Linked DNA regions of Homo sapiens. The protein of the gene in region 7 purifies or fractionates together with the protein of the main gene of each other region. This does not show direct contact. Each region holds a gene or a part of one and is shown on either strand. Other genes may lie near its edges. The genes, in order: BTRC, TTC9C, DHX9, NCBP1, CACNA1C, POLD3 and ADAR.

The links.
Region 1: the proteins of ADAR (region 7) and BTRC purify together in Homo sapiens (affinity purification with western blotting, with the first as the bait; 2 studies listed by BioGRID). This does not show direct contact.
Region 2: the proteins of ADAR (region 7) and TTC9C fractionate together in Homo sapiens (co-fractionation; one large-scale study listed by BioGRID). This does not show direct contact.
Region 3: the proteins of ADAR (region 7) and DHX9 purify together in Homo sapiens (affinity purification with western blotting; 3 studies listed by BioGRID and IntAct, with this or other methods). This does not show direct contact.
Region 4: the proteins of ADAR (region 7) and NCBP1 purify together in Homo sapiens (co-immunoprecipitation; one large-scale study listed by IntAct). This does not show direct contact.
Region 5: the proteins of ADAR (region 7) and CACNA1C purify together in Homo sapiens (co-immunoprecipitation; one large-scale study listed by IntAct). This does not show direct contact.
Region 6: the proteins of ADAR (region 7) and POLD3 purify together in Homo sapiens (tandem affinity purification; one large-scale study listed by IntAct). This does not show direct contact.

What each region holds. Positions count from the first base shown.
Region 1 is NC_000010.11:101,357,165-101,360,664, reverse strand, and holds part of BTRC (F-box/WD repeat-containing protein 1A), read right to left. Parts: intron 1-3,500. UniProt on the Homo sapiens protein: Substrate recognition component of a SCF (SKP1-CUL1-F-box protein) E3 ubiquitin-protein ligase complex which mediates the ubiquitination and subsequent proteasomal degradation of target proteins. Recognizes and binds to phosphorylated target proteins.
Region 2 is NC_000011.10:62,734,986-62,738,485, reverse strand, and holds part of TTC9C (tetratricopeptide repeat protein 9C), read right to left. Parts: intron 3,105-3,500; coding exon 2,922-3,104; intron 199-2,921; coding exon 104-198; 3' UTR 1-103.
Region 3 is NC_000001.11:182,845,847-182,849,346, forward strand, and holds part of DHX9 (ATP-dependent RNA helicase A), read left to right. Parts: intron 1-3,500. UniProt on the Homo sapiens protein: Multifunctional ATP-dependent nucleic acid helicase that unwinds DNA and RNA in a 3' to 5' direction and that plays important roles in many processes, such as DNA replication, transcriptional activation, post-transcriptional RNA regulation, mRNA translation and RNA-mediated gene silencing.
Region 4 is NC_000009.12:97,640,321-97,643,820, reverse strand, and holds part of NCBP1 (nuclear cap-binding protein subunit 1), read right to left. Parts: intron 3,028-3,500; coding exon 2,939-3,027; intron 2,260-2,938; coding exon 2,159-2,259; exon of another isoform or gene 2,153-2,158; coding exon of another isoform or gene 2,130-2,152; intron 618-2,129; coding exon 461-617; intron 1-460. UniProt on the Homo sapiens protein: Component of the cap-binding complex (CBC), which binds cotranscriptionally to the 5'-cap of pre-mRNAs and is involved in various processes such as pre-mRNA splicing, translation regulation, nonsense-mediated mRNA decay, RNA-mediated gene silencing (RNAi) by microRNAs (miRNAs) and mRNA export.
Region 5 is NC_000012.12:2,695,719-2,698,450, reverse strand, and holds the end of CACNA1C (voltage-dependent L-type calcium channel subunit alpha-1C), read right to left. Parts: 3' UTR 501-2,732; downstream 1-500. UniProt on the Homo sapiens protein: Pore-forming, alpha-1C subunit of the voltage-gated calcium channel that gives rise to L-type calcium currents. Mediates influx of calcium ions into the cytoplasm, and thereby triggers calcium release from the sarcoplasm.
Region 6 is NC_000011.10:74,623,582-74,627,081, reverse strand, and holds part of POLD3 (DNA polymerase delta subunit 3), read right to left. Parts: intron 1,675-3,500; coding exon 1,509-1,674; intron 1-1,508. UniProt on the Homo sapiens protein: Accessory component of both the DNA polymerase delta complex and the DNA polymerase zeta complex.
Region 7 is NC_000001.11:154,598,187-154,601,686, forward strand, and holds part of ADAR (double-stranded RNA-specific adenosine deaminase), read right to left. Parts: coding exon 2,855-3,500; intron 400-2,854; coding exon 216-399; intron 1-215. UniProt on the Homo sapiens protein: Catalyzes the hydrolytic deamination of adenosine to inosine in double-stranded RNA (dsRNA) referred to as A-to-I RNA editing.

The DNA.
Region 1 (3,500 bases), on a different chromosome or scaffold from region 7:
ACGCGGTAGCTAATGCCTATAATCCCAGCACTTTGGGAGGCCGAGGCGGTCGGATCACCTGAGGTCAGGAGTTCAAGAATAGCCTGGCCAACATGGTGAAACCCCGTCTACAAAAATACAAAAATTAGTCAGGGATGATGGCAGGTGCCTGTAATCCCAGCTACTTAGGAGGCTGAGACAGGAGAATTGCCTGAACCTGGGAAGCGGAGGTTGCAGTGAGTTGAGATCGTGCCATTGCACTCCAGCCTGGGTGACAGAGCAAGACTCCATCTCAAAAAAAAAAAAAAAAAAAAAGCAGATCCCATCTCTAGGCCAGGCATAGTGACTCACGCCTGTAATCCCAGCACTTTGGGAGGCCAAGGTGGGCGGATCACTTGAAGTCAGGAGTTCGAGACCAGCCCGGGCAACACGGTGAAACCCTGTCTCTACTAAAAACACAAAATTTAGCTGGGCGTGGTGGCACATGCCTGTATTCCCAGCTACCTGGGAGGCTGAGGCACAAGAATTGCTTGAACCCAGGAGGTAGGGGCTGCAGTGAGCCAAGGTTGCACCACTGTACTCCAGCCTGGGTGACAGAGTGAGACCCTGTCTCAATTAAGTTTTTTTAAAAAAAAGAGATCTCTTTTGAAAGTTTATTTTCTAATTTAGCAATAAATAATTTCTAAAACTACTCAAAGTTGAATTTTTACTCCACATCTAATAATTCACTTTTGATAATTTATGAAAATCTACTATAAACATAAATTTAGAAAATTAGCAAAAAGAGGCCGGACACGGCAGCTCACGCCTGTAATCTCAGCACTTTGGGAGGCCAAGGCGGGCAGATCACCTGAGGTTGGGAGTTCGAGACCAGCCTGACCAACATGGAAAAGCCCTGTCTCTACCAAAAATACAAAATTAGCTGGGTGTGGTGGTGCATGCCTGTAATCCCAGCTACAGGGGAGGCTGAGGAAGGAGAATCACTTGAACCTCAGAAGCAGAGGTTGCAGTGAACTGAGTTTGCACCATTGCACTCCAGCCTGGGCAACAAGACCAAAACTCCATCTCAAAAAAAAAAAAATACAACAAAATTAGCCAGGCAAGGTGGTACACGCCTGTAATTCCAGCTACTTAGGAGGCTGAGGCAGGAGAATCATTTGAACCCAGGAGGCGGAGGTTGCAGTGAACCGAAATTGTGCCACTGCACTCCAGTCTGGGCAACAGAGCGAGACTCAGGGTATCTCAGACAAAAAAAAAGAAAATAGGCAAAAAGAATTACCACTAATTTCATACCCCAACACCTATAAGAGTACCCAGAAAACAAACTGTTTGAAAGCCAATTTAAACTGGGAATAGGTAAAGTATACACAAAAACTCAGACAACTTAAACTAAGAACTAGTTTCAGATGTTCATCCCACTACCTGGTAATCAATTTCACTGATGTAAAGAAAATTCCATTACAGTGAAACATCTGACAATTTATTTTAAAATGTAATCTGTTTAGATACCTCTGTTTCCTGAAGTAAGTAAGCAAGTTTACTTAATCACATTAATTCACCCAGTATTATGTCAACAGTGACATCATTAAGGGAAGTCACGCAGGAGATCATGTTAGTGCCTTCCGAAGTTAACCTCAAAAAAAGAGATGCCTCCTAAACATTCCTAGCATTATGACCCACAAACTTGGCCGATACCATTTTTATTTTTAGCCTTAACATCCAACTAGCATAGCACCTACGGTAGCAAGTCTCAAAAGGTGGCCCCCAGCAATTCCCCCTTCCTTGTTTATGCACGCCACCCTTCCTATCAATAGGTAGACATTATTTCTCCTCCCTCTGTAGTTGGCCTTGACTGGCTTTGACCCACAGTGACATTCTTGGACTTCCAAATCTAGGATTTAGAAGACTGGCAGTCTCTACCTCCTGTCTCCTGGAATGTCCCTTCTTAGAACCTTGCCACCACACTTTAAGGAAATCCAAGCAGCCAGGTAGAGAAAGGCCCATATAGAGGAGAAGTGAAGGTCTTTCCCACACCTCAGCCAATACCAAGTGAAGCAGAAAAACCATCAGATTTGAGGGGAAAAATAATTGTTTTTTTTAAGCTAAGTTTTGAGGTTGTCTGTTAAACAGCAAATATTTACCCTTTATACTGTTTCATTTATCTATCAGCTCTATAAATAAAACAATACATTCTAAAATTATTTCATCTATTTCAAGCTACTGTACTTGATTCTGGGATTGGCTGGACAAGAATATATTTATCCTGTTTTTAAAAATAAACGTGGCTTGGCAAGGTGGCTCACGCCTGTAATCCCAACAATGGGAGGCCAAGGCAGGAGGACCCCTTGAGCCCAGGAGTTCAAAAACCACCCCTGTCAACAAAGGGCGACCCTTGTCTCTACAAAAACAAAAAAGAAAAAAAAAATAGCCAGCATAGTGGTGTGTGCCTGTAGCCACTTGAGACGCCGAGGCAGGAGGATCATGTGAGCCTGGGAGTTTGAGGCTGCAGCAAGCTATGACTGCACTCTAGCCTGGGCAACATAGTGAGACCCTGTCTCAAAGGTGAAAACAAAAATAAAGTTCAAATTCCTCCTCAGTATGTCTTTTCAACCCCTATCTTAAACGTGCTTGTGTGTGTGTGTTTGTGTGTTTTGGGGTCTATATTCCCTCAATCATTTTCATTTCTCTTCTTAGGTTCTCTTCAAGTTTCCATTTATACTTTTGTTAACCAAAAAAGTATTAAGAAAGGTCCTTGAGGACCTGCTAAAGCTGAATGAGAGACATTAGCACGTAAGTTAATGTAAACCGTTGCTTTCAATATCATTTATTTGTTTTTAAAAGTTAAACATTCTGCTTAAACTTTTTTCACAAGTAAAACAATAAGCTTTAAGTCTCGATCACGTGTGAATTATGGTCATCTCTGAATCAGCAGTCTTATTAACAGGATTTTATTGTAAAATTCTTTATCAAGGCACTTTAGTATAGCAATGAGCAAATTTGTGAGAGTATCCATTTCATTCTGGCATTTTAAACTAATTTTACATTTGTTTAAACCATGGAAATCATGACATCTGTATAAAAGTTGTCATTAGCGATTCACAATTGAGGGAAAGGTTAAGACCAGAACAAAGCCAAATAGTAATAAAAATGCCCGTTTGATTAAAAGGATAGTTCTTCCATGTGTACTGTGCACTAATTATTTGATGCTAGCTCAAATAGCTTCCTTTTTTTTTTTTTTTTTTTTTGAGACAGAGTCTCGCTCTGTCACCCAGGCTGGAGTGTAATGGCACGATCTCAGCTCACTGCAACCTCCACCTCCTGGGTTCAAGTGATTCTACTGCCTCAGCCTCCCGAGTAGCTGGGACTACAGGTGCGCGCCACCAGGCCTGGCTAATTTTTGTATTTTTAGTAGAGACAGGGTTTCACCATGTTGGCCAGGATGGTCTCAATCTCCTGACCTCGTGTTCCGCCCGCCTCAGCCTCCCAAAGTGCTGGGATTACAGGCATGAGCCACCACGCCT
Region 2 (3,500 bases), on a different chromosome or scaffold from region 7:
TCAGAGGTATAGGGTTAATTTCTCTTGCTGAGGCTCAGATTTCTCCTTCATGCATGTTTAATGGTCCACCTAAGTTCAACTGGAGGAGCATCTTTCTTCTTTGTTAACCAAACATGCCCAGGTAGAGCTGCTTCTCTTTTCTATGGTAGCTGCTGAGTTCTGACTGTGTCAGCTGGAGGTACCGCCGGACGTTGGCATCTTGGAAGATGATGGAGAAGCAATTAGAAACAGTTAGAGTCAGTTAAGACCATAATCATACCTTGTGGCAGGAGAGAATGTTAACATGCTCCCATTTTAAAATCTCTCCAAGATCTGAATATATCGCAACCATTCTATGCAATAGTAAATCTCATTAATTAATAACATTTGGAATTGAAAAAAAACAATCTCTGTCCCGGCTGCTAATTTTTATTTATTTATTTATTTATTTATTTTATTTATTTACTTACTTTTGAGACAGGGTCTCGCTCTGTCACCCAGGCTAGAGTGCAATAGCATGGGATCTCCACTTACTGCAACCTCCGCCTCCCGGGTTCAAGCAATTCTCATGCCTCAGCCTCCCAAGTAGCTGAGATTACAGGCATGCACCACCATGCTTGGTTAATTTTTGTATTTTTAGTAGAGATGGGGTTTCACCATGTTGGCCAAGCTGGTCTGGAACTCCTGACCTCGTGATCCACCCGCCTTGGCCTCCCAAAGTGCTGGGATTACAGGTGTGAGCCACCATGCCTGGACACTGGTTGCTAATTTCATAATGAAAGCAAGATTGATGAAGCAGTTATCATTAAAATAGAGCCTCTAAAGATACTATTCATATAGGTGGCAGTTAATTTATGTATTGGATGCTGAGAAACATGAACAAATGGCTTATATTTTATATCTTTATTAATTCATAATGGCTTTCTCATTCATTTAGATGAGATTTTACTGCACTGCTATACATTTGGTGACTCTGCTACTAGTATCCAGTGGCTATTGTAAGCCAGAATGCAAAAGGGAGACAATTTTCAGTGCTCAACCAACCAACACAGGAATGAGTCTCTCATCTGCTTCACAATATCCTTTTTGCCTTGGAAACAAAGTAAGTCCCAAATTCTCTCTCAGCAGGACTGCCCTTTTTCTAGGTCATACCTGGGGTTAGCTGAGCTAAAGGATAAAAATGATAGCTAAACCAAAGGCCAGACCCCATTTGGAGAACTGGCAGAATGAAAATTATCAAGTGTATTTGTTGGCATTCACACATCCTATTCCAATCACTGTTTTTTTGTTTTGTTTTGTTTTGTTTTTGAGATGGAGTCTCCCTCTGTCTCCCAGGCTGGAGTGCAGTGGCGCGATCTTGGCTCACTGCAAGCTCTGCCTCTCGGGTTCACACTATTCTCCTGCCTCAGCCTCCCGAGTAGCTGGGATTACAGGCGCCCGCCACCACGCCCGGCTAATTTCTTGTATTTTTACTAGAAACGGGGTTTAATCATGTTAGCCAGGATGGTCTCGAACTCCTGGCCTCACATGATCCGCCCACCTTGGCCTCCCAAAGTGCTGGGATTACAGGCATAAGCCACCATGCCCAGCCTCCAATCACTCTTAAAGACCAGGAACAGAACTTGAAAAACGACACTCGCTTTTTTTTTTTTTGGGATGGAGTCTGGCTCTGTCGCCCAGGCTAGAGTGCGACACAATCTCAGCTCACCGAAACCTCTGCCTCCTGGGTTCAAGCGATTCTCCCTGCATCAGCCTCCTAAGTAGCTGGGATTACAGGGGCCTGCCATCACGCCCAGCTTTTTTTTTTTTTTCCGAGACGGAGCCGCCCTCTGTCCCCTAGGCTGGAATGCACCGGCAGGATCTCAGCTCACTGCAAGCTCCGCCTCCCAAGTTCATGCCATTCTCCTACCTCAGCCTCCTGAGTACCTGGGACTACAGGCCCTCACCACCACGTCCGGCTAATTTTTTGTATTTTTAATAGAGACGGAGTTTCCCCATGTTAGCCAGGATGGTCTCGATCTCCTGACCTCGTAATCCGCCCACCTCGGCCTCCCAAAGTGCTGGGATTACAGGTGTGAGCCACTGCGCCCGGCCACACCCGGCTGATTTTTGTATTTTTATTTTTTTTAGTAGAGATGGGTTCCGCCATGTTGGCCAGGCTGGTCTTGAAATCCTGACCTCAGGTGATCTGCCCGCCTTGGCCTCCCAAAGTGCTGGGATTACAAGTGTAAGCCACCGTACCCAGCCCCAAAAAACAACACTGTTTTTTTTTTTTTTTTTTTTTTTTGAGACAGAATCTCGTTCTTGTTGCCCAGGATCTCGGCTCACCGCAACCTCCGCCTCCTGGGTTCAAGCAATTCTCCTGCCTCAGCCTCCCGAGTAGCTGGGTTTACAGGCATGCGCCACCATGCCTGGCTAATTTTGTATTTTTAGTAGAGATGGGGTTTCTCCATGTTGGTCAGGCTGGTCTCAAACTCCTGACCTCAGGTGATCCACCCACTTTGGTCTCCCAAAGTGCTGAGATAACAGATGTGAGCCACCCCACCTGGCCTGCCTATTTTATATATATATTCATGTATATGTATAAATATATACACTGTATATTTATAAATAAAAGCACGTTGATATACATATATTTATATATTAGAATAGGCATACATACATATATGAAACAGACATACCAACATATATATTGTGTATGTCTGATTAAGCATCAACCCCCTACACATGAAACTAATAATACTGCTTTTCTGTGGAGACAAGAACACAAGAGTGGAAAAAGGTCTGTTCATCGTATACTTTTTCAGTTCGAATTCTCAACCATGTGAATGTATTACTTATTGAAAATAATACATTGGCAAAGTAAAATAAAACCCCCTTTCCACAGATCCACCCCAGCAAGACAATTTTGTCTTTACCATTTCAAAGCCCTTCTTGCTTACCTTTAGGCTGCCTATTCACGGCAGCCAGGAGGTAGTGGCGGGCCTGGTCATAGTCCTGCAGATGGAAAAAGGCCACTCCGGCCCGATACAAGGCCTTGGCATTATCAGGCTGTCGTTCCAGGACTTTCTGACTATATTCTCTCACTCGTTCGTAGTTCACGGGCTCCATCTGAAGGAGACAAGCTAATGGGCCAAATGAAAAGAGAGAAGAGGTAGGAGGGGCTCGTTACACCAGGTTCCACTGGCCAGCTCAAGACAGTACTGAACAGGGTGGTAACAACATTCAGTCAACAAATGCTAAAGTGTCTCCCATATGCCAGACACTCTTCTACACACTGGGGATGCAGCAGTGAATAAAAGCTTCACATATCGGCCAGGTGCAGTGGCTCATGCCTGTAATCCCAGCACTTTGGGAGGCCGAGACGGGTGGATCACCTGAGGTCGGGAGTTCGAGATCAGCCTGACAACATGGAGAAACCCCGTCTCTACTGAAAATAAAAATTAGCCAGGTGTGGTGGCGCATGCCTGTAATCCCAGCTACTCGGGAGGGTGAGGCAAGAGAATCGCTTGGACCTGGGA
Region 3 (3,500 bases), about 28 Mb from region 7:
CAAGATATGGCGGAGGCAGCAGGGAGCTCCCATGCCCTGCCTCGAACACCATTCTTCAGGAACCTCCACCTGTTCGGCCATTTGGAAGCCCTCCAAACCCTGTCCTTTGGTTTTTATGGAAACTTCATTATTCAGTATTGATTAAATCGTTGGCCATTGGTGACTTGACCTTCAGCCCTTCTCACTTCCCCAGAGGCTGGGAGGTGGGACCGAAAGTTTCAGCCCTCTAATCTTTCCTTGGTGGTTCTGGTGACCATCCCCCCACACCTGAAGCTACCTAGGGCCTGCCAGCCAGCAGTCAACTCGTTAGCATACAGAAAGTCTCCACTTAGGAGATTATAAGGATTTAGGATTTCTATGCCAGGGAAATGGGATTGAAGACCAGATGTACTTTTTTTTTTTTTTTTTGAGATGGAGTTTCGCTTTTGTTGCCCAGGCTGGAGTGCAGTGGCATGATCTCGGCTCACCGCCACCTTTGCCTCCGGGTTCAAGCGATTCTCCTGCCTCAGGCAGGAGTATCTGGGATTACTGGCATGTGCCGCCATGCCCGGCTAATTTTGTATTTTTAGTAGAGACGGGGTTTCTCCATGTTGGTCAGGCTGGTCTCCAACTCCCAACCTCAGGTTATCTGCCCGCCTTGGCCTCCCAAAGTGCTGGGATTACAGGCGTGAGCCACTGAGTCCAGCCAGAGACCAGATAGGCTTTAAAGATAATATGACACTGTCTACTTGCTGTTTTCTGTAAGAAGTCAGCTATAATCAAATCACTCTCTCCCATATGTAATGTGGTAGTCTGTGTTTTTAAGATCTTTTCCTGTTATTTTTGGTTTTTAGTATTTTGTGTTGTGACCGGGCATGGGTTTTTTTGTATGTGTGTGTTCTAACTTGTTCAAGGTTTGCTGAGATTATTGAATCCATAGATTTATGTATTTCACCAACTTTGAGAGACTTAGCTATTATTTAAGATATTTTTTGTTTTATTTTTTCTTCTTTCCTCTTGGTGTTTATATTTATAAAGACTTGATATCCCACAGGTCCCTGAGGCTCTCTTTTTTTTTTCCTATCATTTTTTCCACTGTTTCTCAAATTGAATAATTTTTATTGATTATCTTCAGATTCTTTGATAGTTTTTTCTGTCCCTTCCATTTTGCTAAGCCCACCCAGTGTATTTCAGACACTACCTTTTTCACTTTTAAAATCTCCAGCTTATTCTTTTCTGTATGTTTTCTCTGGTGGCATTTCTTTTCATTCGTTATAAGTGTATGTTTGTAATATAAATATGGATTTCTTTTATGTCATGAAGCTTAATTCTAATAGCTGCTTTAAAATCCTTGCCTACTACTACTAACATCTGAGTCATCTCAGGGTTGGATTCTCTTGATAGGTATATTTTCTTGAGGTTGGATCACATTTTCCTCTTTGTGTATCAAATAATTTTTTATTGCATTCTGGGCATTGGAATATTATGCTGTGGAGACTCTGAATAATGTTATACTCCTCCAAAGAGCATTGATTTGGTTTTTTTGTTTTGTTTTGTTTTGTTTTTAATCAGGCATTTAATTTAACTGGACTCAAACTGCAAATGCTGTCTTTTGGATGTTAACTCAGATCTCACCTCAGTTTTCTGATCATTTAGGACAGCCATGGAAGAGTCCTTCAGGTCTCCTTTGCTGGGCAGCTTGGAATCTGCCCTGTACATGAGTGGTTTTCAAGGGTTAGCCAGAGATTTCAATATACAGAATTCGGGGCTCCTCCTCTCTGGCTGTTTCCTTTCCAGCATTCCCTCACTTTCTAGCAGCTTTGCTTTCCCTGAACTCTAATTCTGATTCTTCAGGCCAAAAAGATGGTTTCATTGGAGGTTTAGCTGCCTGGGATGGCTTCTCTCAGGCTAAAAGCTACAGTAAACTGGAATTAGACCCTTGATACTCCGTGCTTCCCCATTTTAACTTCTCTCAAGAATCTACCTGCTTTTTTCGTTCATTTTTTATTGCCTGCATATAGTTCTGGTGTGTTGTGTGTGTGTTTGTATTTTTTCCCCCTAAAGTTTATTTTACCTGCAGGAGGGTCAGTCTTACAGGAACTTACTTGGCTACAACCAGAAGTAATCCCCTAGGTGATTTTTTTATTATTGTTTTAACATGGCTCAGGTGTTTCCTATTAAATGCTCTGTGGATTTCCTACTTTCTTCCTTATTTCCTCTGTTCCAGCTACAGTAGCTGTACTTCTTCATAGGTCTTCAAATAAGCCCTCATCTTTCTGCCTCAAAACTTCTATACCTGAAGGACTCTTCCCCAGCTGTCCTATTTAACATTATAAACATTGTCACCCTCAGGTTACTTCCTAAACTCCTTCAATGCTTTATTTTTCTCCGTAACACTTACTTTTTAACTCAGTGTTTCTCAACTGGAGACCATTTTGTCCCCTCAAGGGATGTTTGGGGATGTATGGAGATATTTTTGTTGTTGTAACTCGAGGAGGCCACTGACATCTAGAAGGTGAAGGCCAGGGATGCTGCTAATGACCTACAATGCACTTGACAAACTCCTACAACAAAGAATTAACCAGCCTAAAATGTCACCAAGATGAGAAACCTTGTTCCAACGTAATTTATTTTTGTTTCATTGTATTAGAATGTAAGTTCGTGAGGGCAGGGATTTTTTTGTTTTTAGTTCGTTGCTGTGTCTCCAACATTTAGAATGGTTCCTGGTCTATAGCAGATACTTAAATGTTTTTTGGTTGACTGAGTAAATGAATGGATGAATTTGGAAAAAAAAATTATAACAACCCATTTCTACTTTTAACCCCACTGTATTATTAGTCCATTCTTGCATTGCTATAAAATACCTGAGACTGCATAATTTATAAAGAAAAGAGATTTAATTGGCTCACAATTATGCAGGCTTTACAGGAAGTGTGGTACTGGAATCTGCTTGACTTCTGAAGAGGCCTCAGTAAACTTAGAATGATGGCAGAAGGTGAAGGGGAAGCAGGGATGTCCTACATAGCAGGAGCAAGAGAAAGTAAAGGGGAAGATGCCACACACTTTTAAATGACCAGATCTCATGAGAACTCACTCACTGTTGCTAGGATAGCAGTACCAAGGAAAGTGGTACTAAACCATGCATGAGAAACCCACCTCATGATCCAGTTACTTCTCACCAGGCCCTACCTCCAACATTGAGGATTAAAATTTGACATGACATTTGGGCAGCGATACGTAACCAAACTGTTACCAGCTACCATCTTTATCTTACCTCCTCATTCTAGGGAAATCCTTTTTCATAATCACTTATTTCATCTGGAACTTACCCTTTCATGCCATAAATTGCATTTGCCAAAAGTGAGCATGTAGAGGATATTTTAAAATTTTTTTTGCTGTGGACAATTGTAGATGTGTATAAAAGAATAATATAGTGAAACTCCATGTTTCCGTCATCTGGCTGCAACACTTTCAATTTTACTCATTTCTAACTACTCCCCTTTCTTAGATTATTTTGGAGC
Region 4 (3,500 bases), on a different chromosome or scaffold from region 7:
CTATGCTAGAGGCCCTGGAGACTAAGAAAGGACAGACTTGAGAGAAATTAGGGAGACAGAATTGACAGGGATTGGGAACACCTATGGTACGAGAGGGCAAAGGGAAGACAAAAATTAATGCTCAGCTTTCTAGATGGGTTATTCAGTACACAGTGGCCACTGTATGAGCTGGGGAGAGGGCAGAAAAAAGGAGGTATGAATGATGCATTAATTTAGGCACTTCCTAGTAAGGTATCTGAAGGCTATGCAGCTAGCATCTGGAATACTGGACTGGAGCTCAGGAGAAAGGTTGGAGATACAGTTACAGATTTGGGGGTATCGTCAAAATAAAGGTGGCTTATGAAGCTATGAAAGTGAATGAGAATGTTTTAGGAGAGCATTTTAAATTATTTGGTTGTAGTTCACCTTTTCCCTCCATCCCAACAGTAGTCATAACATACCAACAAACAAACTAACTTACCAAATACACGGCTTCATTATAATTGTTTGCTTTCAATGATTCTTTAAGTTGACGAATCATGGCTTCTACAAATTCTCCACCAAAATTGTAATTCCTGGCATTCAGTAGTCCAACTAATGTTGTATAAATTGTCAGCTTCTCAGGTAATAGGCGTGCACTGATTTAAGAACCCAGTATAACAAGAAAACCCCAAAACAATGGCGTTAAGTTGCTGAATTTTATGTGAATCTTTTTATCATTCCATTAACTTTGGAACAGGATTACTTTTAGCTATGTCTTTAAAAATACTTCAGAAAAAGCATGTCATTGAGAAATGTTACAGACATAGTCCCGTAATTTTTCATTTTAATTCATCAGTTAATCTAAGAGTTAAGAAAGTAAATGATTTAATTGTAAAGTTATCATACTGAAATAAATAAAACTAATGCTACAACAGTTTTTCTTCAAGTGTGCTTAGTGGAACTGAATAGCATTTCCACAGAACATGGTTTCCATGGTAAAATAGCTCAGAAATCCTGGGTGAAACAAGCCTCTTTAATACAGAATCATTAAGGGGGGGCGTGCAGCATTCAGAATTTCTAAACTTAGCTAACCAAATGTCATGGAACTAGAATTCTACTTTGAGAAACACTATTCTAGTTGTTTAGAAAAGATGCACAATTAAAACGAGTTTCATCTAAGTTCCTACCAGTTTAATTATTGAATTTTTTAAAAACATACTCTGATATAGTTAAGATTTGTTTACGTCTCAGTTGCTTACTCCAAGTGTGCTGATTTCATTAAAGTTATTTTAAAAGTATGGGAAAGGATTACAATAAACCTTTAGAAAAAGCAATTTTTCCTAATTTAGGCAGCCTTTAGAATTAGCTCAAAAAGCAATAAGAATTCATAATCATTAAGTGGGCAAGAGATTCTCTTTGACTTGTTTTCCTAAAGTACCTAGCAGAACATCAGGGACAATCAAGGTCTTCAAAAAAAATACCTGTGTTGATGGTAACTGTGGTCCCTGAAACCCTCCCAAAACCAAAAATTAAAAAAGAACACTGCGAAGCAATACAAGTTCAGCCTTAAACAAACAAGGCTTCCAACAGTTTAAGTGTAAATACTACTCCATTTTAATAAAGGATTTCAGAAGATTTCCTTAGTAGTTTCTTAAAGTTACCTTCACTTGATCTAAACTAAAAGGCTGAGAAGTGATAAACATCACCTTCATAATTTAAAAACACCTCATGGATACATTACAATTTCATGTAACTACAAAGACTCCCATTTATCCAGAGAGTATGCCTATTAACAGTGGCTTCCAAAGCATCTTCAGTCTTCCAAGAAGGGCTATTACCTGAGTTACCAATTCCCAAATTTGTCTGGTACTAATTTAAAAATGTAAGTATCATACATTTAAATGTACATGCTTAAAAATATATATCTGAATGAGACAGTATCTACTATCTCTATAAAAAGTCAACTAAAATGATTCTAAGGTTGTAAGAACATACAAGGAAAATGTTCAATTTTAGTTTTATCCCTAAGAAAAAGAGTTCGCCAAAGCGCCAAAGGTTGGCTCATTTGTACAAATTTCCCCATAGAAGTAAAGCCAAGGACATATAGAACATAAACATGTATTTTGAACATTTCCCAAAGCATTTAAGAGTAGATAATACATTATCACCTGGATTCATAAATCTTTTGCATACATACACTGTACAAAGAAGCCTTAAGATCTTGCTCTTGTAGTTAGGAAGATCAGCTTCCAAAACACCAGCCAAGCCTTCTAGGTTGCTCTCCAAAGAGCAGGCACTCTGTAGAGGACATCACATTAAATATCTGTCAAGTACTCAGCAACATAAATTTATTTTTAAAAATCTATTTAAATGTAAATATATACATATTTTAAAATCTATCATTTTAAAATCATTACCAATCATCTGTCCTTTCAATTGCTATTTTAGTGAACTAAAATAAAAACTTCTGCATGATCATTAAAATAGTCTTACATGCATACAGAGCTATAATGGGTTTAGTATAAATCAATTCAGATAGTTATTGTTCTTCAGAAATCCATGAAAAGTGGACGAGTGAAATTTAAAAACTAAGCAGTCTATGATAACAGAATAAGTATTAGAAATGGGAGGACACCATGGGCTCCATTTTACCTCTTTTACTAATTCACTCTCTTACTCTGGGCAAATTACCTCAAGTATTCAGGGCTGATTTAGTTCATGCATAAATTAAGGGGTCTATACCCTAGGTCCCTTCTAAGGGCTCATCTTCTATGAAAATTATTAATTACTAAAGTACTAAAAATGATCAATTATCTACATCCCAGGGGCTTCAACATGGATTCAATTTGGGATACAGATGCATGGTAATACCAGCTTTGCCAAAATGTAGTCCAACTTTTCAGCTGCAAAAATTAATCAAAGCACAGTTAACCACATTCTTAAACCCATCACAGCCTGTGCCTATTGTGTGACATACCTTTTCTCCTACTTTACATATTAAAGATTCCAAATGATCTTCAGTTTCATTTGCATCAGAGGTCTTTCTCCTTTTGTGAGGCTGCCCACCTATTTCAGCAACATAAAAAATTAACATTACATGATAAATCTGCTATCACAAATTTTATTTAACCTTTTTAGGTTATAATCTCTTTTCTACCAGGCCCTATGTTTTTACAGAGTAGAAGCTCTTCACAGACCCTCCATTTCTCAGACTAAGCTAGATTAACCAACAGCCTCCCATTCCCAGAGCCACTATATACAATAACTCCAGGAGGCATTATTTATGTTAAATTTTGTGTGAGTAGTGCCCATGGAGCTATGCAATCAGCAGCCCTGTCCATTTCTGTGGACAAGCTGGAAAGCTGCCAACAACATGTTAAACACTAGTAGTTAGAATACTCATGTACCGCTACTCCCATTCTTTTAACTTGAGTTGTTTACTGATCCTCAGTTGCTTGTTCCGAAACCTGTTAGTACCAGTAGTATTCATTAGTCTAATAATGTATTATGTAAATGACAAAATAAGGGTGCAAAACCAA
Region 5 (2,732 bases), on a different chromosome or scaffold from region 7:
ACAAATTATTTTTACTTAAGGGGTTATTCTGAAAGGTTTATCGAAATCAGATTAAGTTATAATAACAAAAAAAAAGAAAAGCAATCTTACATTTGTATAGTCCTCATAGTACTTTATATATTATCATATCTCCCCCTCCTTTCTTCTCTCCTACATTCCATCCCTCTTCCCTTCTGTCCTTTCAAAACCAATTTCAGAGACTGCTTTTCCTGTCTAATCCATGTGAATTAGCCATTTAATTCCTCTGATTTTGTCTCCTTTTTAACTTTTGGCCATTTTTCTGTCAACTCTTTCATGAGAAGGAAGAAATAGGGGATGGGTTAACTGCTGAATGGACTTAGGTATTATCATTGGATTCATATTTCCTGTGTTCTCTCCAGTCTTCTTCCTTTTGGGGATCCCAGACAGTTGAGATAACTGAGTGAAGTTTGTATTTGTGACCTCTAGGAAACAGGAGAAAGGAAGAAATAAGGAAGAGGGAAGATACAATGAAGTCAATGTAGACATTGTTAAGAAATTTATTTGCAATTCTTATTTTTTGTGTTTTTTGTTTGTTTTTTAAATAACATCATTCCTTAGATAAAAATGCAATCTTACAGGAATATACAATAGTGTCTCACACAGAGATGACCCTGAAGCTCTCCTTGAAGGGTTGCCCCTTCTAGATTCCCTGGCCTTTCTCGAGGGTGAGAAGGCCCATCAGGCGAGGCCTCTGACAATGGGATTATTTGAGGATTACAAACTGTACAATGATATTTACAACAGTAAGACTGTGAAGTCGTGGAGCCTGGAGGGGAGGGTGTGGGGGTGTGTAGGGGTGTGGGGAATGGTGACAACGGAGGCACTGCCCATCTTTCTGTGCCTCTCTGATAACAGGCATGATACAGATTGGTTTGGGGGATGAAGGTGGGTTTGAGCTGGAGGACATGAGGGAAGGGGAGATTAGAGGAGCTTTATCTGGAGCGTTTCACAGGAGGAAAGTTTTGCATGGTAGCTCTGGTGGATTAAAATAAAACAGCAATATTATGAGAGTAATAGACCTTTCAGTGCTTCACCAACGGGGAATCTGTCGCCCTATTTCTTAATGAATGTGCGTGTTTTGCCATGGGTTATTCTCATCCACTACCATCACAGACTTGTCCAGACATGCTCATCTCTGTTTCCCATGGCCTCACTCCCACGAGGCTTGGGGGAACAGCATGCATTCTGGCCAGGACAGGACATGGCAATGGGGTGGTATATAACCTGGCTGGGATTCAAGAGATGGATTTCAGGTGTGGGTATGGGCTGCAGCTGGATGCATAGGTGGCCTGAGGCAGGAAAAGAGAAGGTGCGCACAGCTTTGGGATGCTGGAGACACCTCCTGAAGGGGATCTTTCTGCACAGGACTGTGTGTTTACAAATCATCTTCCCTTGATGTACAAGTTCTTTCCTTTTCCCCTTTTAAACATTGGTGTAGTTTCTCCATATTGGGAAGTCTTGGGGTTGGGGGCTATGTCCAGGACCCAGTGACCCACCCTCTTTTGCTTCTCTTGTGACTCTACAGGAGAGACTTCTCTTTTCTCCTGGCCAATGGCCAGGAGAGGTTTCTTCAAGGGGGTCCCTGAAACCTGCAGCCTCAGGTTCCTTGGCAAGGGAGCCACTGCTTGGCCTGGTGCCTGCTCACCTTTTTTTCCTTATTCCCTTGGTAATAAACTTGAGATCTCTAAGATTTCCACAATGGGAATTCTCCAGACCCAAACAGTGAATAAGAATCATTCTGTCCATTTCTGCATTTCCTCACATAGAAATGACCCTCTCTTAAAACTTACAAACTCTTCCACCCAGAGCTTTTTTTTTTTTTTTTTGGATAATGACCTTGGTTTGAGGTGCATGAGTGAATTTTAGAAATGAATGTACAATGTATGTCTGATTCACACCAGGGGAAGTGGCACAGTGCCCTTTCTGGGATCCCTACAAAGTCAAATTCCTTAGATCCTGAGAAGTGGAGTGCATGGGATGCCCTGAAAAGGTGGGGGTGTCCCTGTGTAGCAGCCAGTAACTGATCTGAAGGGAGAGGACTTGGCTCTGGTGATGTAACATTTCAAGCCTCTGTGTAATTACCTAGTCTTAGTCTTTTCTTCCTCATTCTTAGTAGAGACGTGGGGAACTTTCATGAAAAATGCTAATTCTGACTCCTCTCAGCGTGCAACAGATTTGTTACACTTCATCCACTCAGCTGCAAGATCTAGAGTGCTTTCAGAGGTGACTGGAAGAGTTCTCTAATACCCTACAAAGACCATGGATCTTTGCCACTTCAGGTGCTGTGGCTCAAACCTCTTAAAGTCATCCCAGGAAAAAGTGTTGATTGTAGTATTCTCTCAATGTATGTAAATAGAATTTATGTCATAATAATAGTAGGTTCTGATGGTACTACTTCCATCCAAGGGAGTCACTCTACTGCACCCTCCTTGTCTGTGTATACAGTGCTCACCCTTGCAGGAGCAGGAAAGTCCCTCATCTAGAGCTCAACCCCAGCCCTTGTGCCTTAACGGTGTGTGTCTGTGTAGTGAGGGGGGTTGTTCAAGCATCCCCCGTCAATGTAGAGATGTGGCAGAAACCCGTTCACCTGTTGTATTGGTATCTGGCTCCAGAAAGAAAAGTTTCATTGCTTTGACATAAGAATAAATTGATGAATGAAGTTAAACCCAGAAGAGGCTTCACAAAGAGGTCGTGTAAGCATCTGCCCATGG
Region 6 (3,500 bases), on a different chromosome or scaffold from region 7:
TTTTACAGTCAACTTTTTTTATAAGTAGAAAGACTACCCTCTAAAATGATAAAAAGTATAGTGCAGTAATTATAGTAGCATAGTCATTTTTATTATCAAGTATTATGTATATATAACTATTAATATATATGATATACTTTCACATGACTGGCAGCACAGTAGGTATATTTATACCAGCATCATCACAAACACGTGAGGAATGTGTTGCGCTACCATGTCATGACAGCTATGATGTCACTAGGCAATGGGAATTTTTCAGCTCCATTATAATCTTACGAGACCACTGTCATATATGCAGCCCATTGTTGACCCAAACATCGTTATGCAGCGCATGAGTAATCTTATGAAGTTAGCACAATTTTGACACAGCAACTTGATAAAGACATTACCAGAAAAGAATGTAACTGACCTGTAGACCTCATAAACACAGGCAACAAATGCTTAGTGTAATATTAACAAATCTAATCCAGCAATATATAAAAAAGGATAATACATCATAACCAAGTGGAGTTTATCCCAAGAACACAAGGTTGGCCTAACATTTTAAAATCAGTGTAATTCACCACATTAATAAAAACACCATCTGAGCATCCAATCAATTCAAAAAAGCATCTGTCCAAAATCAATACCCACTCATGATAAAACCTCTTAGCAGACTTGGAACAAAAAACAACTTCCTCAATCTGGTTAACGGCATCTATTAAAAATCTACATTTATCATCACATTTAGTAGTGAAATACTGAATGCACTGCTGGCAATAAGTATCAACAGTGAGTGACGTACCCATGGTTGTGGACATTTTAATCCATACAAGTCATATGTTCCTAGGTGGTGAGGCCCACTGGACAGAGCTTTAACCCTCTAAAATTTCACCATTTTGTTGATGTTTTCAACGAGAGTAGTCCCAAACTTGCCACAAAAGTCGTCTTTCTAGGCCTATCAGTGTTGACAGTGTCCTTTAGAATTTCTTTCAGCAGACTAATTCTACCAACTATGAGGTAGTGTCTCCAATTCCTGGATCTAGTTTTAATAGCTTTATGTGCTTTTTATTTTCTTTTCTAATTACATTTTACCACTTGAAAAATAAACTCATTGATATAAAAAGAAAACAAAGAAGTTTTTCTCTTAAATTTGACTGGAAACAGTAACTGTTCATTTGGCAATTTGAAGTGAAACACACACACACACACACACACACACACACACACAACTAGGCACACTTATGCCATGTCCACAAATTTAAAACAAAAATCAACAATCAATTTAGATCAATACGGCCAAAAACACGACTTTGGTCCTTAAATCATCCAAACTGGCTGATCCTACGGTCCTACTCCACTAGATAAGCTACTGGGCTTCTCTTTCCATTTTGGTTGTATAGTTGTATCCCTTAGGCATTAAGTAGGATTTAGTACTTAACTGAAAACTGCCTGCTGTCAATAAGCCCAAAGAGACCTTCTCACCCCCAGTAAAGACTCTTCCCCAATAAGCAACAAAATTTTCCTACCTTTTTTTTTCCTTCTGCAGCACCTTAACAGGCTCTGCTTTTTTGCTGGATTTTTTCAGGCCTGCAGGAGTTGCCAGCTTTGGTTCCGTGACAGACACTGTAGGCTGCTCCACTATTTTTTCTTCTTTCACTGCTTGTTCTGAGTCCAAATTGACTTTAAATTTATCTATAAATAAAGTATAGCAGACGACATATGACCCCATCATGCAATATTAATACATCATTCTTTTGACAGTCTACCATGTGCCAGGTAATATGTTAGGAGCAGGGGCAAAAAGGAGCTCATGGACTATTCAGAAACATTCCTCCTTTCCAACTACCACTCTAACTGTAACTTTTCATTTCTGCCTCCTGCTAATCCCTCATTGTATCACAGCCCCCAGGCTAAATGATAGTAAAAGCAAGGCTTAGAAAAAACACATACAACTTTATGAGGCATCATCCTTCTCATTTTCAGATGAGGAAAATCAAGAATCAGAAGGATTACAAGATGTTTCCCAACAATACACAGTTTACAAATGGTGACAACGATTTGCAGCAAGACCTTTGCTTTCTATATATTCTATCTTTTAATGCCTGGATACCCTTAATATCTCACTACTACCTTAATGATAAAATTTAAAGACTATTTTGGAGTCAAAGAAGTTTGGTTCAAACCCCGCTTCACTCTGGGCAAGTTATTTTATCTAAGTCAGTCTTTTCTAAACCTGAGATAATATTTACAAGATTATCATAAGGATTAAAAGAGATCAGTATTGGTTAAATGATTTATCCAGGTAACACTGACAGAAAAGAGTAGGGATTTGAACCAAAGTCAGTTTAACTCCTCAAAGTCCTTAACCCTTTCCCTACACCAAGCTGAAGAATGACTACAGTGCAGCAGGGAGAACTAAGAAATGCAAACAGGCCTAGCCATCTGAGGAACTATAGAAGCATGTCATCTAGCCTTCACGCTGTACTTAGTGATAGCTTTTCACAAGTAAAGGCACAAAATACTATTAGAAAGCTGTCATTAGCTGGAGGTGCTTCAATAAGTAGTTTTGGTTATATGTTGTATAATAGCTTAAACCATCTACAGTGTAGAAAAAAATTGGTATCATAGTCTGGGCTATTATGCATAGCTTAGTACAATAATTTATAAATAATGTGTATTATTTGAAGGGTAGTTGATGGACCAAAGTGTAAAATGCAATCTATTTATACTTTTCTTTTTCCTGAAGACTTGAATGGAAAATGCGAATGGTGGAATCCACCTTCCCAACGATGGCATACTCTTGCATTTTCAACTGTTGTTCTCAAGTATCAGTGCCTCTCAAATATCCCAAATTGTATAGAAGAGTAAACATGCATCTCCAGGGGTCTAGGGGTCAACAGCCAATCCAAAAAATACAGTTCACTGGAGTCACATGTGTAGCTTTAAAATTTATGCAAATTTTGCAATCTATCACATAAATTATATTGTTTTAATAGCAATTGTTTTAAAAATTGCATCATTAGGAGAAAAAAACCTCCAAATACTTCCTACCTACCTATGGATTAAGGAAAGAGAGGCTATTGCATTGAGTTTACCAATTACAGAAAACTGATCTGAATTAAAATGCCACTGATCAAACATTAGATTCAGCATCCAGAGTTTCTTCTGTCTTGGTTTCACAGAATTTTGAGAACTCCAACTTAAACATATATGCAGCTACCAATAGCCAATTAACTGGTAAAGAGGTAGTTTAATGCAACATTGTAAGGCAATTATTAAGGAAAATTTAATGACTTTTTTTGTTACCTGAATGATCAAGTCACCTATCTTCTAGCTGATTAAAAGCATTTCCTTTTTATACTCAAGAAAACACGAAACCTTTTCAAGCAAATAAAGATAACCAATTATGACCTTTAAATTTTGTCATCAATGCTGAATTTTATTACATATAAAGCGTTACTTTTAAAAATTGAGATATAATTCACATACAATAAAATTCATCACTTTACATTCAGCGT
Region 7 (3,500 bases):
AATTCTGTAAATCCAATTATGTTGGGACAGGAGCAGACAGAGGAGCTGGGTATGAGAGGAGGAAAGGTGGGCTGGCGAGATAGGGTAGAGGGAAGAGTGGGAAGCTGACTCCGAGATGGTGTCAGTTGTTTAGGCTGGGATTGCCTCAAGGGAGTCAGTTACAATCCAGACACTGACAGGGAACTGATCCTCCCAGATGGCAGGAGGACACCTACCTTCTCTGATTCTTTCTCTGTGGAATAGTGGGATGATTCTTCTGATTTTCCACTGTCCTTGGCTTTGGCTTCCTCTAGCAGAATTGTCATGGCTTTCATAGCTGCATCCTGCTTGGCCACTTTCTTGCTTCCAGCTTCAGCTGGGGGAAACTCTCGGCCATTGATGACAACCTGGAATTTAAATCTTGACGGAAAGTGATTAGATGTGTGAACAGGAGTCTAGGTCACTCCTTCTGCCTTCTCCAAAGAGACCTTCAACCTGGAATTTTCTGCTACGCTAAGGGGCTTTTCACTTGTGGAGATGAAGGGTAGGCCAAGGAACTCCTTCCTACTCCTTAAGGCTCAGCCTGTCCTTTCTTTTTGTAAACAAAGCAGCCAGTGACTCTTTCCCCATAGCTCAGTGAAGCAAACATAGGCACAGATGATAGGAAACTAGCTCAGGGGAAACCCACTATCTCTTTAACAATGAATTAAGATAAAACCCACACACACAAAAATGATGAGCCAAAAATTACCATTATAGTCTTGTGAGCAACCAAAAGACCTTCATTCTAAAGCAATTGTGGTAGACTGGCCTCCTCAAGGGAGGGTCCTAAAAGATAGTGAAGGCTTCTTATAACCCAGTCTCACACTCCCCACTACCTAGGGGGATCAGGCATCTGCCACTTATCAGTGGCCTGCTTTTGTCCCTAGACCTATATCACCGTAGTTTGTTATGAGTCACTCTATAGCACCATTTGTCTCCAGCTATTTTCTACATAACAAGGAATTTCCCCTTGTTATGTAGAAAATAAAAAAGCATTTGTTCTAGGCCTCTGGACTTAGCCTAGGCCCCCTTTGTTCAAGCTTTCAAATGTGGTGAGCTCTTTGCTCAGTCTGGGATTTCATTTAGAAAAGTAGGTCAAATTTCTTATTTCCTAGGTCTTCTGATATATTTGAACATGGCACCAATGTTTCTTTTAGTGTGAGTCCAAAGAATGACTAACCACAAAATCCACTGCTTTCCTCCAACTCTGGGGAGGAGGGATGGAGGCAAAAGAGAATGACGGCCATCCAGTCTCTACCCCAAACAATCCAGCTCTGGCCTTGCCAGCTTTTGGACAGACACAACTCCTTTTCTTAACCGCTCTCCTGAAATGCCAAATTGGTGTCATGAAGACAGTCAAGACAAGGAATAAGGGCCCTAGCCAGGAATCTACACCCCTAGAAACCAGGCTAGGTAAACATAAAGGTCAGTGGAATTCTCCCCCATCCTACTGGCTCTTTCCCTGGCTGCAGCTGCAGCCACTCAGCTTCAGTGGTTTTGCTCTCTGTTATGCCCTTCAGAAGCTCCTGTTTTCCTCAATCTGTCCACTGGCCTATTAGGACCTACAGTGCAGGGCCTGACCAGCTATCTGAGTGAGGTAAAGGCTGACTTCACAGCTCAGGAGTGGCAGCAAGTGCTAGCCTACCCATCTGTGCAGAGGAGGTTTATAAAATTAGAACCACCACCTTCAACAGGCAGGCAGCCGTGCACACGCTCCTCCATCCTTTCCCCCCAGGAGCTATGCAGAGGGGGGATTGTGGACCTGCTGCTGCTTAGCAGCACAACCCACCCCCACTGTGTATGCAGCCTGCCCCAACCCACCTGCTCCTGCACCTCTCTCAGAAAACGGCTTAGGGAGGAGGGGAAGGCCTACAGAAGGGAATTAAGTCTTCATTACCTCTGCCTTAGGAGGCAGGCATGATATTGATGCATGGAGATCAATCATGTTTTTCTTTTTTCTTTCTTTTTCCAAGATGGAGTCTCACTCTGTCGCCCAGGCTGGAGTGCAGTGGCGCCAATCTCGGCTCACTACAACCTCCACCTCCTGGGTTCAAGTGATTCTCCTGCCTCAGCCTCCCGAGTAGCTGGGATTACAGGCAAGCACCACCACCCCCAGCTAATTTTTGTATTTTTAGTAGAGATGGGGTTTCACCATGTTGGCCAGGCTGGTCTCGAATTCCTCACCTCATGATCTGCCTGCCTTGGCCTCCCAAAGTGCTGGGATTACAGTCGTAAGCCACCGCCCCGGCCCCCAAGACCAATCATTTCTTTCTTTTTTTTTTTTGAGATGGAGTCTTGCTCTGTGGCCCAGGCTGGAGTGCAGTGGCGCAATCTCAGTTCACTGCAACCTCTGCCTCCTGGGTTCAAGTGATTCTCCTGTCTCAGCTTCCTGAGTAGCTGGGACTACAGGTGCACGCCACCACGCCCAGCTAATTTTTGTATTTTTAGTAGAGACAGGGTTTCACCATGTTGGCCAGGCTGGTCTCAAACTCCTGACCTCGTGATATGCCTGCCTCGGCCTCAAAAAGTGCTGGGATTACAGGCATGAGCCACCGCGTACGGCCAAAACCAATCATTTCTAAAGAAGCTTCATTACAGCCAACAGAGTCAACCTCCCCCTTGTTCAGCCAAGATTCTGGCTGGTCCAAGGTCTATATTCCCTGCTCAATATCTGGAGAAAGGGCCAATCAAGGGGAATTTAGCTAAAAGGCAGAAGGGAAGGAGGAAAAGATAGGCGCCACCAAACAGCACTGCTCACAAATCAGCCAAGACTGCGTCAGGAGCAAAAGCACCTGACCCCAACCCTAGGTACAGTTCCTGGGTGGTCTCTTACCGAGGTTCATGGGGTGGTCCACTCTGCTCTATCATGTTGAACTCACAGGTTTGACTAGCGAACTGGGCATATTCTAACAGCCCGCTGATGGGGTTCTTCAGCTGGCACTCTGTCAGTTTCTTGTAGGGTGAACACCGTGGCAAGCCATGACTGTAGAAGGAGGGCATCTCCATGATGGCTCGAAACTCACCTGGTGCTGCGCGGATACTATTCAAGTCATCTGGGATGTCATCTGTGGCCCACTGGCCATTTTCAAAGTCAACATACCCTGCTTTTGAGGGGCCATTGTAATGAACAGGTGGTTTCAGTCTTGCTGGTTCTGGTCTGGCCTCTTGCCTGTTTTCTAACTTTATGACAGGTTCCTGCCCATTCTCCACTTTTTCTGTGGTTACCATGTTATTTGAGGCATTTGATGTGGGTATATTACAGGTGAGGAACTCTGCGTTTCTTTTGGTCTCAGGGATTGCAGCTGGAGCGGTTTCAGGAACACTGTTCGTATTTCTCTTGATTTGCATCCTCTCTCGCTTCTTGTCTGTCAAATGCCATATGGGAGGGGTTGTCCCTTGTCTATAGACATCCCCCTGCCTTTCCATGTCAATTAGCACAGCATTTATATCTCGGGCCTTGGTAAGGCCAATATTTTTAG